Regions from separate parts of the Homo sapiens genome. Here all the other regions are reported to be linked to region 1. The links are microRNA targets in miRTarBase. Many come from high-throughput screens and were not tested one by one. Region 1 holds a microRNA gene; each other region holds the end of a gene's coding sequence.

What was found. The annotated mature microRNA hsa-miR-223-5p reads CGUGUAUUUGACAAGCUGAGUU and lies in region 1 at 3,470-3,491, opposite strand. An mRNA with a match to its seed (bases 2 to 7 or 8) in the 3' UTR can be bound and repressed. Matches are read on the target gene's strand: a 7mer-m8 pairs with bases 2 to 8, a 7mer-A1 pairs with bases 2 to 7 and ends in A, and an 8mer does both.
Region 2: miRTarBase lists MMADHC as a target of hsa-miR-223-5p. Seed matches in the 3' UTR shown: 7mer-m8 at 4,465-4,471.
Region 3: miRTarBase lists MLLT3 as a target of hsa-miR-223-5p. Seed matches in the 3' UTR shown: 7mer-A1 at 609-615.

What each region holds. Positions count from the first base shown.
Region 1 is chrX:66,017,311-66,022,385 of GRCh38, reverse strand. MIR223 (microRNA 223) reads right to left here and starts at 3,516; the gene lies at 3,407-3,516. VSIG4 (V-set and immunoglobulin domain containing 4) reads left to right here. Exons shown (of 8, transcript NM_007268.3): 8 at 1-648. The coding sequence ends at 123. MIR223HG (MIR223 host gene) reads right to left here. Exons shown (of 3, transcript NR_170299.1): 3 at 1,960-3,562.
Region 2 is chr2:149,565,317-149,570,391 of GRCh38, forward strand. It overlaps MMADHC (metabolism of cobalamin associated D), which reads right to left. Exons shown (of 8, transcript NM_015702.3): 8 at 4,321-4,852. The coding sequence ends at 4,658. Among named protein-coding and RNA genes, the nearest start is that of MMADHC-DT, 20 kb to the right of the region's middle.
Region 3 is chr9:20,342,223-20,347,297 of GRCh38, forward strand. MLLT3 (MLLT3 super elongation complex subunit) reads right to left here. Exons shown (of 11, transcript NM_004529.4): 11 at 1-4,352. The coding sequence ends at 4,221. It overlaps LOC124902129 (a long non-coding RNA gene), which reads left to right and starts at 4,897. Exons shown (of 4, transcript XR_007061434.1): 1 at 4,897-5,075.

The sequences.
Region 1 (5,075 bases):
GAGCCCTGCATAGGACAGGAGTACCAGATCATCGCCCAGATCAATGGCAACTACGCCCGCCTGCTGGACACAGTTCCTCTGGATTATGAGTTTCTGGCCACTGAGGGCAAAAGTGTCTGTTAAAAATGCCCCATTAGGCCAGGATCTGCTGACATAATTGCCTAGTCAGTCCTTGCCTTCTGCATGGCCTTCTTCCCTGCTACCTCTCTTCCTGGATAGCCCAAAGTGTCCGCCTACCAACACTGGAGCCGCTGGGAGTCACTGGCTTTGCCCTGGAATTTGCCAGATGCATCTCAAGTAAGCCAGCTGCTGGATTTGGCTCTGGGCCCTTCTAGTATCTCTGCCGGGGGCTTCTGGTACTCCTCTCTAAATACCAGAGGGAAGATGCCCATAGCACTAGGACTTGGTCATCATGCCTACAGACACTATTCAACTTTGGCATCTTGCCACCAGAAGACCCGAGGGAGGCTCAGCTCTGCCAGCTCAGAGGACCAGCTATATCCAGGATCATTTCTCTTTCTTCAGGGCCAGACAGCTTTTAATTGAAATTGTTATTTCACAGGCCAGGGTTCAGTTCTGCTCCTCCACTATAAGTCTAATGTTCTGACTCTCTCCTGGTGCTCAATAAATATCTAATCATAACAGCAACTTCAGTTGTGTTGGTCTTCTCTCACAGTATGGTAGGACCTACTAAAAGTAATTAAAGTGAGACTAGTTAAGATGGCTGGGGCCCGAGAATATGGATGTCACTTTTGCTTTTTTGGTCTTTCCCCTTCCCACACATGCCACTCCTACTTCACTCCACTGGTAAGCCCAGCTGGAGAACAGTGAATACTTGATTAAACAGTACTCCCCTGGCTTCCATTACCCAACCTGTCATCCTGCCAGGTCCACCTGGATGATTCTTCCCACATCAACTGGAAGCCTAAGAAAGAAAAAGTCTTTCTGTCTCAGGGGACTATGAATGCAGAGATGAAGGGATTTCCTTCTTTCCCAAGTATGGATGCACCACTCCCAAGGATTTCCACTTCTTTGAATCTTAAAATCCTGGGGGTAGTTGCATTTTTCATATGTTATCTTCTTTAGCTCCTGGCCCCTTCTTACAATGTGAGGTGGGGATAAGAGCAAGAAAGCCTTTCTCTTCAAGGAGGAATAGGGCTAGGAGTGTGTGTGTGTGTGTGTGTGTGTGTGTGCGCACGACAGAGAGAGAGAGAGAGAGTTTGTATGTGTACATAAGTTCCTACACCTTTAAATCAGGCTCCGCTGTGAGGACCTGTTCTGACCCAGGTTGACACAGTTTTATTTTCTCGATGTAATTAATGTCAAATCAACTTCTGCACTCTTCAAGGAAGCTGCCATGTTGCTATTTCTGGTTCCCATGCAGCCCCTAGGTCAGCTCATGTTTCACAAGGAGCTGCTCCCCTTTTGCAATGATTACAGAAGTCAAAATAGTACACGAAAGTAACAAAAAGGAGTCCTCCACTTCACCGCCACCCAACATGCCAAATCCAGGGTAAAAACCTCAACATTTTCCTCATTCCAGACGCTAGCTTCTCCTAGTTGGCGAAAGGAACAACTCTTTCTTCCCCATCGTGCTTACAAGCCTCTGAAATAGGGCCTCCACCCAGTGGAAACCCCAACTTCCTTCATGAAACAACTCTGCGTCCAGACCCTACAGCCTTTGAAAATACCCATTATCTTTCCCTACTACCCATAGAAAAAGTGAGTTTTAGGTGTTGGGAAGAGAATCCTGGTTGCATTTTCACTGGTAAAAGGAGCCACACATCCAGGGACGCTGCTCCATAAGAGCTAAGGACTCCCAGGGATATCTCAAAGTCATTAATCTTAAAGAGCCTAGAGATCACTGATTCTAATACTTCCGTATTGGAGATGAGAAAATGAAGCTCAGAGAGGAACAAAAACACAGTTAGTGGTAGAAAGGAGACCAAAAGTCAGGCCTGTGAACTCCTCAGTGCATATATTTATTGCAGCATCTGGATCTTCTTTGCCTCAAAACTTAGAATATTTTTAAATACAGGACAAGCTAGTAAAGAATTCCTATGTAATAAAGATAGTCCACAGCTGCAGAGGCTAAACAAAAATGAGATGATAACATGTGACCTTTCTTAGGCAGATGGCTGGTTGGGGAAAGTAGATGAATGAAAAGAGGAAAAGATCTCCAGAAGAGCGGGAAGGTATAAAGTTTCTCTAGGACAGTTTCCCAAATCGTGCTTCATTGGACATTGACACAGGAGAAGGCTGTGGGGGAAAAGAAAATTCATGATCAGATAGGTATGGCAAATGCCTCATTCTATGGTTTCCTCTTTGAGATTCTCAATGCAACATTAGACTATTAAAGGCTCTGAAAAATCCTACAAGAAAACACCTGTATAACCTTGTGTGACCAAGTAATACCAAAATTTATTTGCCCTCTGAGTCTGCTATTTTGCCCTCTTCCTCCAGCCCTTGACACTGTTTCTCAGGAAGAAAACATCCTTCATGCTGGCTACTACCTCATATGCTCTATAACATTGTGGTGTTCACAGTTTGAATTTTTCAAAATCCAGGGTAGAATTTGGCCCCCAAACCTAAAGCTAGTGGACAAGAGGAAAGTCAATCAATCAGTAAATATTTATTATTTTCTGTAACTAAAGTACTGGGCTGTGGTAGGGGAGACAACAATCAAAGACATAGCCTTGTCTTCCAGAAGCTCACAATCTAGTTGGGAATTCAAGAATACCCCTTAGAAAAGTTCATTGACAATTTACGAGGTGCTATTAGACAGTAGGAGAGAAAGGCATACATACCAGGGCCCAGGGAAGAAGAGCTTTGTGAATGAAGAAGGAAAAAGTGTAAGTTGACTTTCAAAAGTCTCTGGAAACACTGGACTTTAGCTGGTCCAGGAAATATAGGGAAGAATTGGATAGGCAGGAATAAATGGAGAAAGTGTTCCTACAGGAAAAGACATGTGGAAAAGGGGAGAGGTAGGCAAGATCAAGGAGTGTTTAGAAGGCAAGACTGAGTATCAAGAAAGTGAATTTCTAAGCCCTGCTTACTCAGATAAGCCATTAGGCTTGTGTGAGAATGCTGATGTCCTAGATAGGAGACTCTGGGAGGGGAATATGAAGGAAGAAAATAATAATGAATCAAAGAGCACTTCCATTCCTGGACACTTTATACATTTTCAAGACTATTGCGCCCCCATCAGCACTCTCATGGTGTGTGTAGACACAGCCCAGGGCTGTATTTCCCTGAGATGCCACACTTTTCCCCTGGTGTCCTCAGATATAATGCCTCAGTTCCTGCAAAGTCACATAAAATAACTTGTGAGAACTTGGTGCTTGGTGAGCATCCTTGTATCCAGCTGGCAGTCCATTCGTCATATCCCATCTGCCCTGGCCTAGAGCTGGTAAGCATGTGCCGCACTTGGGGTATTTGACAAACTGACACTCTACCACATGGAGTGTCCAACTCAGCTTGTCAAATACACGGAGCGTGGCACTGCAGGAGGCCAGGCCAAGAGCTTCTGTGGGGAAGTGAGATCTTCCTGGGAGATGTGACCCTAGAGGGAAAGAGAGAGAAAGGAATGATGAAGTCACACCCTTAGCCCCGGGGATCTTGCTCAAAGGACCAACCAAAGCACCAGAATAGGGAAGTGAGCAAAATAGGCATAGGGTTCCTAACCAGAAGAGAGATCCTGAAGATAAGCAGGTAAAGCCCGAGTGACACCCAGTGCTCAGCTGGAAGCTCATCAGGCCTGAGTCCTGTAGCTATGGCATTTCTAGGGGTCCCAAGCTTCAGTGGGTTCCTCTATGCAGCAGAGAGGGGAAAATTTGGTCATCATCCTGCCTCCCTGACTTGAGGAAAGTACCAGACCCTAGAGTCAGCATCCTTGCTCCCTCTTCTCAATTCTCCCAAGCTGTGTTTTCAGTGTTGTGGTTATGCACATAGGCTTTGAGGTTAAACATGAGCTTAAATCCTAGTTCTTCCATTAGCTAGTTAGGCAACCTTGGATACATCATTTCACCTCTCTGAGCTCAAGTTTTCTACACCCACAAAATGTATGTAAGTATAATACCTACCTCATAAGGTTATTGTGAGAATGACAGGAGATAATGCATGTAAAGCCTTTGGTTCAGTATTCAATACATAACAAATGCTCAAAAAGTAGTGGTTGTGTGACCAAAATGAAAGAAAGAGCTATTGGCAATTGATTTAGCAGGATCTGGACAGGTGTGACATTGATTTCTTGTGGTCTCAGCCTTGCCTAACATGATCCTCTTGTCCCATAGGGACTCAAGAATGGCAGCTATTAAAGTGCCCTTAAAGATCATCTAGTCTCACTCACTTAGGTTATAAATGAGATAACAAAGGCTCCTGTTGGGGAGGAGACTTGTAAAGTTTATACAATAAATTTTTTACAGTTCAGCAGTATGCCTTATACAGCTTTCCTCATTGGTTATTTTGCCTCCCTTCTCTGTATATCCCTCTGGGAAAGGGAAGACACATCAACAAAGAGGGCAAAAACAGGCAATAGCTTTGTAATGCAACATTTGGGATCACTGAACCCACAAGCCACCAGGGCAATAAGGAAGCTGCCAGGAGCAGGGTCAGGTCTGAAACTTCTGGGAGAATTCCCTTGGCAACAATCAGATCCTGTTGCTAAAAATCCCAGGTTGCTGGTGTCAAATTACTGCCCTTACCAGCTGTGGCAGTTGATCTGTGAGCAGGTAGCTGGTCTACATTAAATATTGTCATGAAAAGTGGCAAACATCACAAGGTTACCAGAAATGGTAAACTGCCCCCATGAGGCCGGAAAGCCCTGTCCCAGCCCAGGTAAGACAGAGGGATTCAGCCTTGTCTTTCAGCAAGAAAACAATCAGTGTCTTTTCTTGCTCTATTCTTTTAATTGAATGTTAAGAAGGTAACATACTCCTTCAATTTAAGTTCTGGCAGTCATCTCAAAACTAAAGCTCTTTCACTCCCTCACTTCCTTTTCTACCTACCCAATTCAGCCTAATCCACCCAGCAGCAAAAGCAGCAGTCATGGTCACCAAATATGGCATGACAGAATC
Region 2 (5,075 bases), not on the chromosome of region 1:
TACATTTCTGATGATTAATGAAGTATGGCACCTTACCGTGTTTACCGACCATTTGAGTATCTTTCTTTGTAAATGTTTATTTTTCTGGTGGTTATTTGTTTACTGATTTTAGGAGTCTTTATATATTTTGAATACAAGCTGTTTATTGGATATGTATATTGCCAGATTGTTGAGTATGTATTTATCTTTAACTCTGCTAGCTGCCTTCTCCTTCATGATGTCTTTTGATGAATTAAGAGTTCTTAGTTGTTTTTTGTTTTTGTTTTTTGAGACAGTTTCGCTATCATTGCCCAGGCTGGAGTGCAATGGCATGATCTCAGCTCACCGCAACCTCCGCCTCCCAGGTTCAAGCGATTCTCCTGTCTCCTGGGTAGCTGGGATTACAGCACCACCACGCCCGGCTAATTTTTTCTATTTTTAGTAGAGACGGGGTTTCTCCATGTTGGTCAGGCTGGTCTTGAATTCCCAACCTCAGGTGATCCGCCAGCCTCGGCCTCCCAAAGTGCTGGCATTACAGGTGTGAGCCATGGCGCCTGGCCAAGGGTTCTTACTTTTAACATGATCCAATTAATCATTTTTCCCTTTATATGATTATGTTGTATTCTCTTAAAAACAAATCTTTGTCTACTCCAAAGCACAAAGATTTTTTTTCCCCCTAGAAGCTTTAACCTTTCAAATTTAGACTTGGAATCAATTTAGAATTTTGATGTATGTGTCATGTAAAAGTAAAAATACATTTTTCTATATGAATATCCAATTGACCCAGCAATATATACTGAAAAGATCCTTCTTTTCTCACTGCACTGCAGTGTCACCTCTGTGATCAATCAAGTGACCACTTATGTGCTTTTTATAGTAGTGACATGGTTTTAACTGATTATAATTTCCAGTAATGAATGGAAGACAAATGCTCAAAGTCTCAAAAAACAAAAAATGCTCAAAGCCTTAAGTCTACATAATTAAGTTACAGTTTACATGTATTCTAAGAGGGCAATGAAAACCCTATGAAAAACTTTAAAATATCCTGGTTAGGAATGAGAGGATAACAGGAAAGTTATTACTGCATATTCAATGGTGTGTTTAAGTTAGTAGGAAATTGGGTCCTTACTTTCCAAGTATGGGAGGCAAGATTTAAGACAAAAAAATATAAAGGAACTGTGTACAAAATCGTGTGGTGGAGACCAAGTACTATATAAATTAAGGAAAAGACCAGTGAGGGATGAAGAGCCAGGAAAGGTTTCATAGAGGAAGTGTGACTCAAATCCTTGAATTGATTTAGGCCTGATTAGGTCTCTCTTAATGCAAAATATTAGAGCCTTCATTCTTTTCTATAGCTCCTTAATACATTAAATAGATTAGCAAATCTTACTCTTATTTCCTTAGATGCCTCTAATCCACCAACTATTACTGAGTTTTAGGACCGACCAGAGGTTCTAACCCTGAATGCACACTGAAACACCTGGGAAACCCTTAAAAAGTACTTAGGTCCAAACCTCATCAGACTAATGATATCAATATGTGGGTGTGAGGCCAACTCATCAGTACTAAATGCCCTCAGGGGATCTAAATGTACAGTTAAAGTTGAGGACTTTGAATCAGTGGTTCTCAACCCCAGTGATAAAGTTGTCAGATAAAATTCAGAACACCTGGTTAAATTTGACTTCTGATAAGTATTTTGTCCCATAGGAGAAATATAGCAATAACGGAAGACATTTTTGTCATAACCATGGCTTGCTGTTGGTATCTAATAAGCAGAAACTAGGGAATGCTGCTAAACTTCCTACAATGTCTAGGAGAGCCCACACAACAAAGACTGGTTCAAGACGTCAATAGTGCAGAAGTGGATAAACCCTCCTTGTGACAACAGTCACAAGGAGAATATAGAGTTGGAACTAAAAAGAGAGTTTTGTTCAAATGTAAGGACTAGGTTGATATTACAAGTAACAGAAGCCCAAGAAAGACATGAAGGTTTTAAACTTGAAGCTAGAGAACTATTGTTTGAAGTCTAGCATTCTATAATTGAATTTTTAGATACATGTTTCAGTAAATTTTCAAAGAAACTAAAAGCACATAGCGTTCAATGTAATGAATTCCTAAGTTTATGAAGTGGCAGCATTATCAGTTAACCCAAAAGTTCTTTCACTTTAAATTCTGCAACTCTTTGATATTTTTAATCAGACACTTAATAGACTTCTTGATTATGACCATGAAGTGAATATAGAAAAGAAATATATATAACTAATGGACTCTTGGCCAAGTCCCAGTGCTGGGTCTTAACACTAGCTGTGTGACCTGATGCAAATGCTCCTGTTTCCCATTTTGTCTACCATAAAATGAGGAATGTGGATGACATGATCTGAAAGATCTCTTTCAGCATTTAATTTCTATGTGCTTGATAAATTTTCATCTATGTAACCAGCATCCAAGAACAAAAATTCCTAAGTTCTTGTGAAAACATAACTTTAACAAATAAACTTTTATTCAGTGACAGATCTAATAGTAATTTCAATGGCTCAGTCTTATTTTTTTAAAAGGTAGCAAATTTATGTTTAAGATATATAATTTTACAAATCCTTTCTTGTCCACAAGGTCCTGATCAAGTGAACAGTTACCTGAGGTGTTTTTTTCTGTGGTACATAATAGTCAACCACTTTATATTATTATCATTCAGTAAGAGTTCCTTGAGTTATATTTCTAAAACCTGAATCTTGCCATAATACTTCAGAAAAAAAAGTTTTTAATTAACAGTTACTGCTGATCATATTTGTTTCTGGAAATCCTGTTAAAAAGCAAGTTGATAAAGAGTCTCGTCACCATGTACCCTATCTCAGTACAACAGAATGCACAGACTTAGTCACCTATAGGGAATAAGTATCATTTTCGATCAGTAAGTGACACTTCCTAATTGTTAAAGCAAATGTTGAAATTTCAAGGGAACTTGCCTTAAAGAATGGTGCAAGGTAGGAAATGGCTGAATAAGCAAAATACACATTAGAAATAATGAGAGTGGTGCAAGGTACTTGACCAAATTCTGTATTGTGTAACGCTGTCCTCTGTACTGTGGGACGTTCAGCACTAACCCTGTCCTCTACCTACTAAGTTCTGTAGCACAACTCCCCCATGTCCCTCCAAATTATGAAAATAAAAAATGTCTCCAGACATTGCTAAATTTCCCTTGAGGGGCAAAGCTGCCCCAATTCAGAAGCAATGAGAAGGCAAAAACTAGGCAAACAAATTTGATACCATATACGATAACAGGAATTAATTTCACAATGTTGAGTAAAAGCAGCCAGACACTGAAGCGAACACATTATACAGTTTCATATATATATGTAAAATGTGTGTGTGTATATATACATGTGTATGTGTGTCTACGTATATATAAAGCGTCAAAACAGGCAAAACCAACCTATACTGTACAAGGAAACCTGGACAGTGGTTACTCACGGAAAGGGCAAGGGCTGGGGAGCATGTAGTACCTAGAAGGGAGCAGGATGAGTGTGTTTGAGTATTCTGTGTTTTGATCTGGGTGCTGGTTACACACATAAAAATTTATTGAGCACATATGATGTGCATATATATATATATATATACACTTCAATAAATGTTCTTCTAAATGCTGTGGCAATCACTACACTTCATCATTTCAAAATAAATGAAAACTTTCTAGTTCTAGATCGTAAGCAACACCTCTTATCAAATGACATGTTAACTAAGCTAGGGGTTTTAAAACAAGGTGTGATTAAAAAGTTATCTCCATGTAGTCCTTTTCAAAACAGGCATTTCATGCAAAGAAGAAAAAACAGAAAAAAATCTATTTCAATTCATTTTGTGGAAGTTACATTTACTCCTTAGATCTGCCTATTCCTATTTGCAAAAGCTTCAAAAATGAAAGATGAAGTTTATGATGCTGTAAAAACAAGCTCTGTCTCAAATGAGGCACCTCTGTAAAGTACTGCAGTTTCCACCTATTGCTAAAATTGAAAAATAAATTTGTCAGTTAAGGCATAGTTCTATTTGTCTGTCTCAACTCAGGAGTTAAGAGAGAATTACCTTTTTAGTAGGGATAAGGACAAGACTCATATGCGTTTAAAGATGTATTATCCTTCTTCTTCTTTTCCTGAACATAAATTATTTCAAAGTAATACTCAGACTGGTACCCCAACACTTAATAGACAATAAAGATAAAAGAAAATTTGAAAAAGTCTACAATGAATCCAAAATTCTCAATTGCATTAAAAAGAATTTTAAAAAGATTAATATAGAAACTTAAGAATCAATAATGGTATTTAAAAAATACTGTAATGAAAACACACATTATTGTAACCAAATGTGTGATTTATTTTGGGAAGAAAATAATTAAAACTGAGGCCTTTTTCCAATAAAGAGGAGAAATAACAATAGCAGATCATACCCTGGTTACAAGCTAATTACCACATCCTATACAATGTGGATGTGTTCAACGTGTATTCAATGATATGAATAAATGAACATTTGCAATTTTAAAATCCCAAATCACTTGCCAATGTTGTAAATTCATAAATGCTGAAATAAATACTTAGAAATAAATATATTTTAAAAACTTTAGTCTGACAGTGTTTATAGATCAACCCAAATATTACATACAAATAGTACAGCAAATGAATGGATATTTCTGCTAATTTCCACTTAATTTCTTCATAATATGGCTGTCTGGTGTTGCATTAGTGAAGATACTCCCTACAACTACATGGGTACCCCAGAGACTATGACGAATCACTTTACAGCATCCAAGGTCATCAACAGAGAATCCTAAATGTCGGTAGCGTTCATCAGTTTCAAAAAGAGTGTTGTTTGTATATGGTCCAAAAAACTGAGGAAATAAAAACGAAATATTCTCATTAGTAAGAAAGACATTTTAGTAATAATTTTTAGGTAAACATGAACACCTATCTACTTTAATACTCCAAATATTTAAAAAACTAAATAAGTAAAAAGTCACATGCAACACTTAAACCGCCTTAATATCCCTTTCCTCCAATTCCTATGCATTCTGGAAATCTGAAATGATCTAGCAAATTACATGTTACCTAGAA
Region 3 (5,075 bases), not on the chromosome of region 1:
GAGTTTAAGTAAAACACCTATTTCTATCAATCTGTACTTACATTTCAACATGGATTTTAGAGAAGGGAAATACATCTTACAGTGTGCCTTGAATTCACACAAAAGCATGTACACATACACAATGTATCTTTCAACATAACTACACATACACAGTCCATTAAAAAGATACTGACAGATTTATAAAATGTATTGGCCTTGCACTGTTAATCTCAATAATACATTTTCACTTAATTTATTTTTGCACTGCATGGTAGCTCTGGCCACCATTAAGGATCTGTCAGCATTTCCATCATAACTCTATTTTCAGAATACTGGAGTACAAGTGCCAAAATACACATTTACAGTTTACAGACAGCGGTGGCTTTGTCTTCCTTTTAAATTGACTTCTTCACTGCATCTTTACAAGGAATATTCAGGGATGGCAGTGCCTACATAATAAAAAGCATCATATAAAACAAAAGAGGTCAAAAGATGTAGACTTCCAGCCCGAGACTAAACTAAACCATGGGAATTGACTCCTTAACATTCACTGCAGCTGTAGTAGTCTCTACATCATATTCATAGTTTTAGAGCAACAGTCCAAAGCAAGATTACTCTGATAATATATATGTGTATATATATATATATATGTATATATAAATATAGGAGCAGTACATAGCATTAGTACACAAAACGCTAAAGGTGGAAAGTAATAAGCATACAGCAAATTACTCCAGAGCAGATCACTTCTACAGTGACAAAAATAAACACGAGCCACCAAACAGACACTGACTGTTTCCAACACTGGACATCCAACTCCATTAAGTAGGCAAAGTTAAAACATTTAAGAGTAAAGTCTCTCTTAAACAAATATATTAACTACATTTGTGGAGCTTGAAGTAGTAAATAGGATGTTATACAGGCCTAAAATTGTTTCTTCTCTTTTTTTTAAAGATTAGGTGGGCCTGTAAAAGATATCGGCAAAAAAAAAAAAAAAAAAAAAAAAAAAAAAATTTTGAAGAAACTTTTTAGTGGAAGAAAACCAATATTACTGGCTCTTTCCACCAAAAGGTGAATATTCAGATTAGAGAGATTTAAATTGCCTAGCAATTTAAAATGTTTAAGACACTCTCTTAAGAGATATTTTTTTCCTGATCTGAAGTTTTTATAGTCTTCCCTACCTTGACACTATATGAACGCATTTATAGACATACCTATTTGTCTGTATTAAGATTGAGAGAGAGGCAGATTATGCTGAGGATGGTGAAGTAACTGCAAAATATTGTTGCTAACATGACTGTTACATCCGAAGACAGAAGGAACCCCAAACCCACCAACACACATCCTGCTGCAAAACCAGAGGCAAAAGCTAAGTTATAAGGGGGCAGAGGGGCAGGAGCTCTGTACATATATTTTTTCCCCTGGCTGATCACTGAGGAAAAATTTTTTAAAAGTTTATCATACTCTGGCTGGTTCAAACCATATTCACATTTACCCAATTAATTTTATTTGAAACATCTATTTATATATGTACACCAAAGAAATTAAACCCTGCCATTTTCCCTTTGTGCTTAAGAAACCAGAGCCACTGTTAGGGTACTCACATGTCAAAGATATTCTTAATAGGCTTCAAAGTTGGGTGTATATAAATGTGACAGAACTGAAGGGGTTACTTTAAGAGAGGTATTAAAACTACTTGAAATTAATTCAAAGGGATCTTTTTATTTCTGTATTTAAAAATTAGATGAGAGCAAGATTACCACTTCAAAAAAAATAACGTAACTCTCAGTCTTAATTTTGTGAAAAACTTACTTTGCTATCTTGATGAGTAGAAGATGGATAAGTTTTTCTGAACTTTATCAATTTACAAACTTACATTTTAGGATATTCTGAAGAAATTAACTTTATTACCTAATTTTCAAGTCTAAAGTTTATCATATAATAGCTGTCCTTCTTATCATTATTTTTGTTTGGTCATTTCTTATCTTACCTAGCTTCTTGGTTAGTAACTTAAAGGAAAAAATTTTTACATTGGCAAATCATATTTTTTGCCCCACAATTTAGTTACAGAAATAAAAATGGCCCAAACTACATATATACGTTTCTAGTTAAACTACACAGATATATTAAATCACATAAACTTCTGGCTTGATCAGAATATGTGTTAGCAGTTAGAAATTTTAAAATATTTTAAAAATTTGCAACATTTCCATATAAACATTACCCTCCCCTTCCAGCTATAAAGTTAAAAACAAAACGCAACTGAAACCACACAATTCATCAATCACCTAATGTCCAAAATGACTCAAAGTTTCTCTGCACATCAAGAAGTGGACAATACAACAAATGCTTCAAGTACGGTTCATGCCAATCGTCATTAAGAATCATAACATTATTGAGAAAGTACACTTGTCCTCTGGGAGGACGCTTCAGAGAAATAATTTACAAGGAGCATGGCTGTATTATAATTTTTTAAAGGAAAAATAGTTTCTTTGGATAGAAAGAAACAGTGTAAAAAATCCCCTTTTTAAAATGCAGAAATAACTCCATTATCAATCTGCATTTATATAACTGCCCAAAAGAATGGGTCTGGAAAGACCATTTTCTGTACAGACACTAGTTAATCTCTGTATGAAAAGACAGCATCTGGCATGGGAACAAACAAGGGAGATACTGGTCTATTAGCACACATAGAGACTTTCTTAAGGCTGATCCAGTGACGAACCTTTGGATCCAGAAGTATTTCTTCATTTCTCTTCTTTTCGGCTGAATTTCTAGTAAAAACTTTGAAGATGAGCTGTTCTTACTTTTCATTTCTCCACTTATGGAGAAGATGGAATAATGACACCAAAAGTACTTTGGTTTTTTTCTTTTAAAAATAATTTGCTTTCTTTTGCATGCCACAGGACAGATTTCTAGTTTCAAAACAAGGGTACAACAAGAACAAAAAAATCCCCCCATCCCCAACCGTCTTTCACCAATACAAGAAATCCTTCTGGAAATATTAGCAAGCAACTAAACAGGTATTGAACCACTGAATCTACAAGTTAATACATAATCTGTTATGGCAGAATAACCAAGAATTTTTCCCCAAAGAAAGATTTTAATTTTTTCAAATATAAAAGTGTCTAAGAGAATCATATGTGAACAAACAAAAATCTCTGATTCCAGATTTTTAGGATAAAGATGAGTAACACACTGGCAGCTGAAGAAAGCTGAAACTCTGACTAATAAATAGATCCAAATTAAGAATTTCTACAACAGTTTTTTTTTTTAGAAAACAGGACCAGAATTCTTTTTTTTTAAATGATGATCCTGTGGAATGCCTTTACTTCCATATTCACCTAATATTGTAACAGTAAAACAGACACAAGAATGTTGATGACAGCTCAACAATGCTGGATTCAGGACATTTACAGGTACACTTTTGTTTAAAAGTCCTACAAGTTTATTGACTAAGGCTAGACAGCAATTCATATGATCCTATTTGGTGCATTTTCTACCATGGTCCAAGATCATTACATGGATACAGCCAAGGACTGGGCCCCAACTTTCAGGAAAAAGACCACAAAGAAGAAAATCAAGGTGGCTATTTGGTCCCCCCAGTTGATAATCTGTGTCCTGGAACTGGAAAAACAAAAGGTGGAAAATACAGACTGCAACGAGTTAAAGGACTTGGAAAAAGTTGGTGGAAAGTGGCACGGTATACGAGTAAGGTCACTGGGCTTGGGATGGCAAGGGTGCTGCATTGAAAGAGCATCCACGGGACCAAGTACTTATAATGTCTGATGGTGTCATTCCCTCAACGACTTAGAATATCTGTATGCGATAATAAATAGATCAGTTATGTAATAAGGCAGTGTGTTGAATATGCATTCGTCCTGTGGAATGAACCACCACAGAGAGATACATGATACCATACACATTCTTTGAGTTTTCTTGTGTTGTGTTTGATTTGTTTGTTTTCAAGGCTATCCAGGCTAACTCTTCCCGGGGATTTCCTTGGAGAGAAGAGTGGTCCGCTGAGGCTGGTTTGCTTTAACCTCTCCTTTATCAAGAGATGATGACTGGCTTTAAAGAAAAATAAAGCTGAAGGTTGTTTGATTTTTATTTTTTCCCTTTTGGTTGCATCATTTTGAGTGTTTTCATATAAACAACAAGAACAAAAAATCACAACCAAAAAAAAAAAAAACCAAAAAAAAAAAACACAATAGTTCTTGATGCATCCAGTTGTTATATCCTCAGGATGTTCCAGATGTTTCCAGGTAACTCTGTAGTTTACGGACTGTGGTTTTGTCCAGCGAGCAAAGATCAAAATCAAATGTTGTGTTTGTGATATGAAAGTGTCCAGTTTCTTCTATAAGGTTCACGATCTAGAGGAGTGAAGAAGAGAAAGTTTGGGCAATACGCAGCAAACATCAAAAGGCAAAGAGAGAGTAATGGAGGGGCGATCAAATATGGAATCAAGTGATAAATATTCGTATTTATAGCAACAAGGTCCCATACCATGAATAGCATTAAACTGTCTCAGTCAACTTGATAAGTCAAAGGTATATTAAGCCTTAGAAATTCCCAGTGAGAACCTGTCTTGCTTTTCATACCCTTTAAACTGATGTCTGCTTTCAAGTCATGAACAGAATATTTAACTGTGAGTGAGCAGTTAGGGGGAGATAGCATTTCAAGACTCCTTTAAAAATTAGTTACTGACTCAATAGACAGTGATTATACTTAATAGACATAAGAAAAATCCAGCCGAGAAATAACAAAACTACTTTTACTTAAGTACAAACACATACACACACACACCCCTATATAAAATCATTTTCCTTTATCATTATATAATTGTTAATAATTTGGAAAATACAGGAACTCCCAAAAAAAAAAAAAAAAAAAAAGGAAAAGAAAGAAACTGTCTACAATCCCACCCCCTTAACAGATAGTGACCAGAGGGGGCTCAAGGGAGCCTTCTAGAGTACTGGAACTGTTTTGTTGTTTGACTTGGGTGCTAGTTACATAAGATGTTGTCACTTGGTGAAAATGTATCTACCTGAATGCTTTGTTATACTTTAACATAAAAATAAAAACATATTTATTAC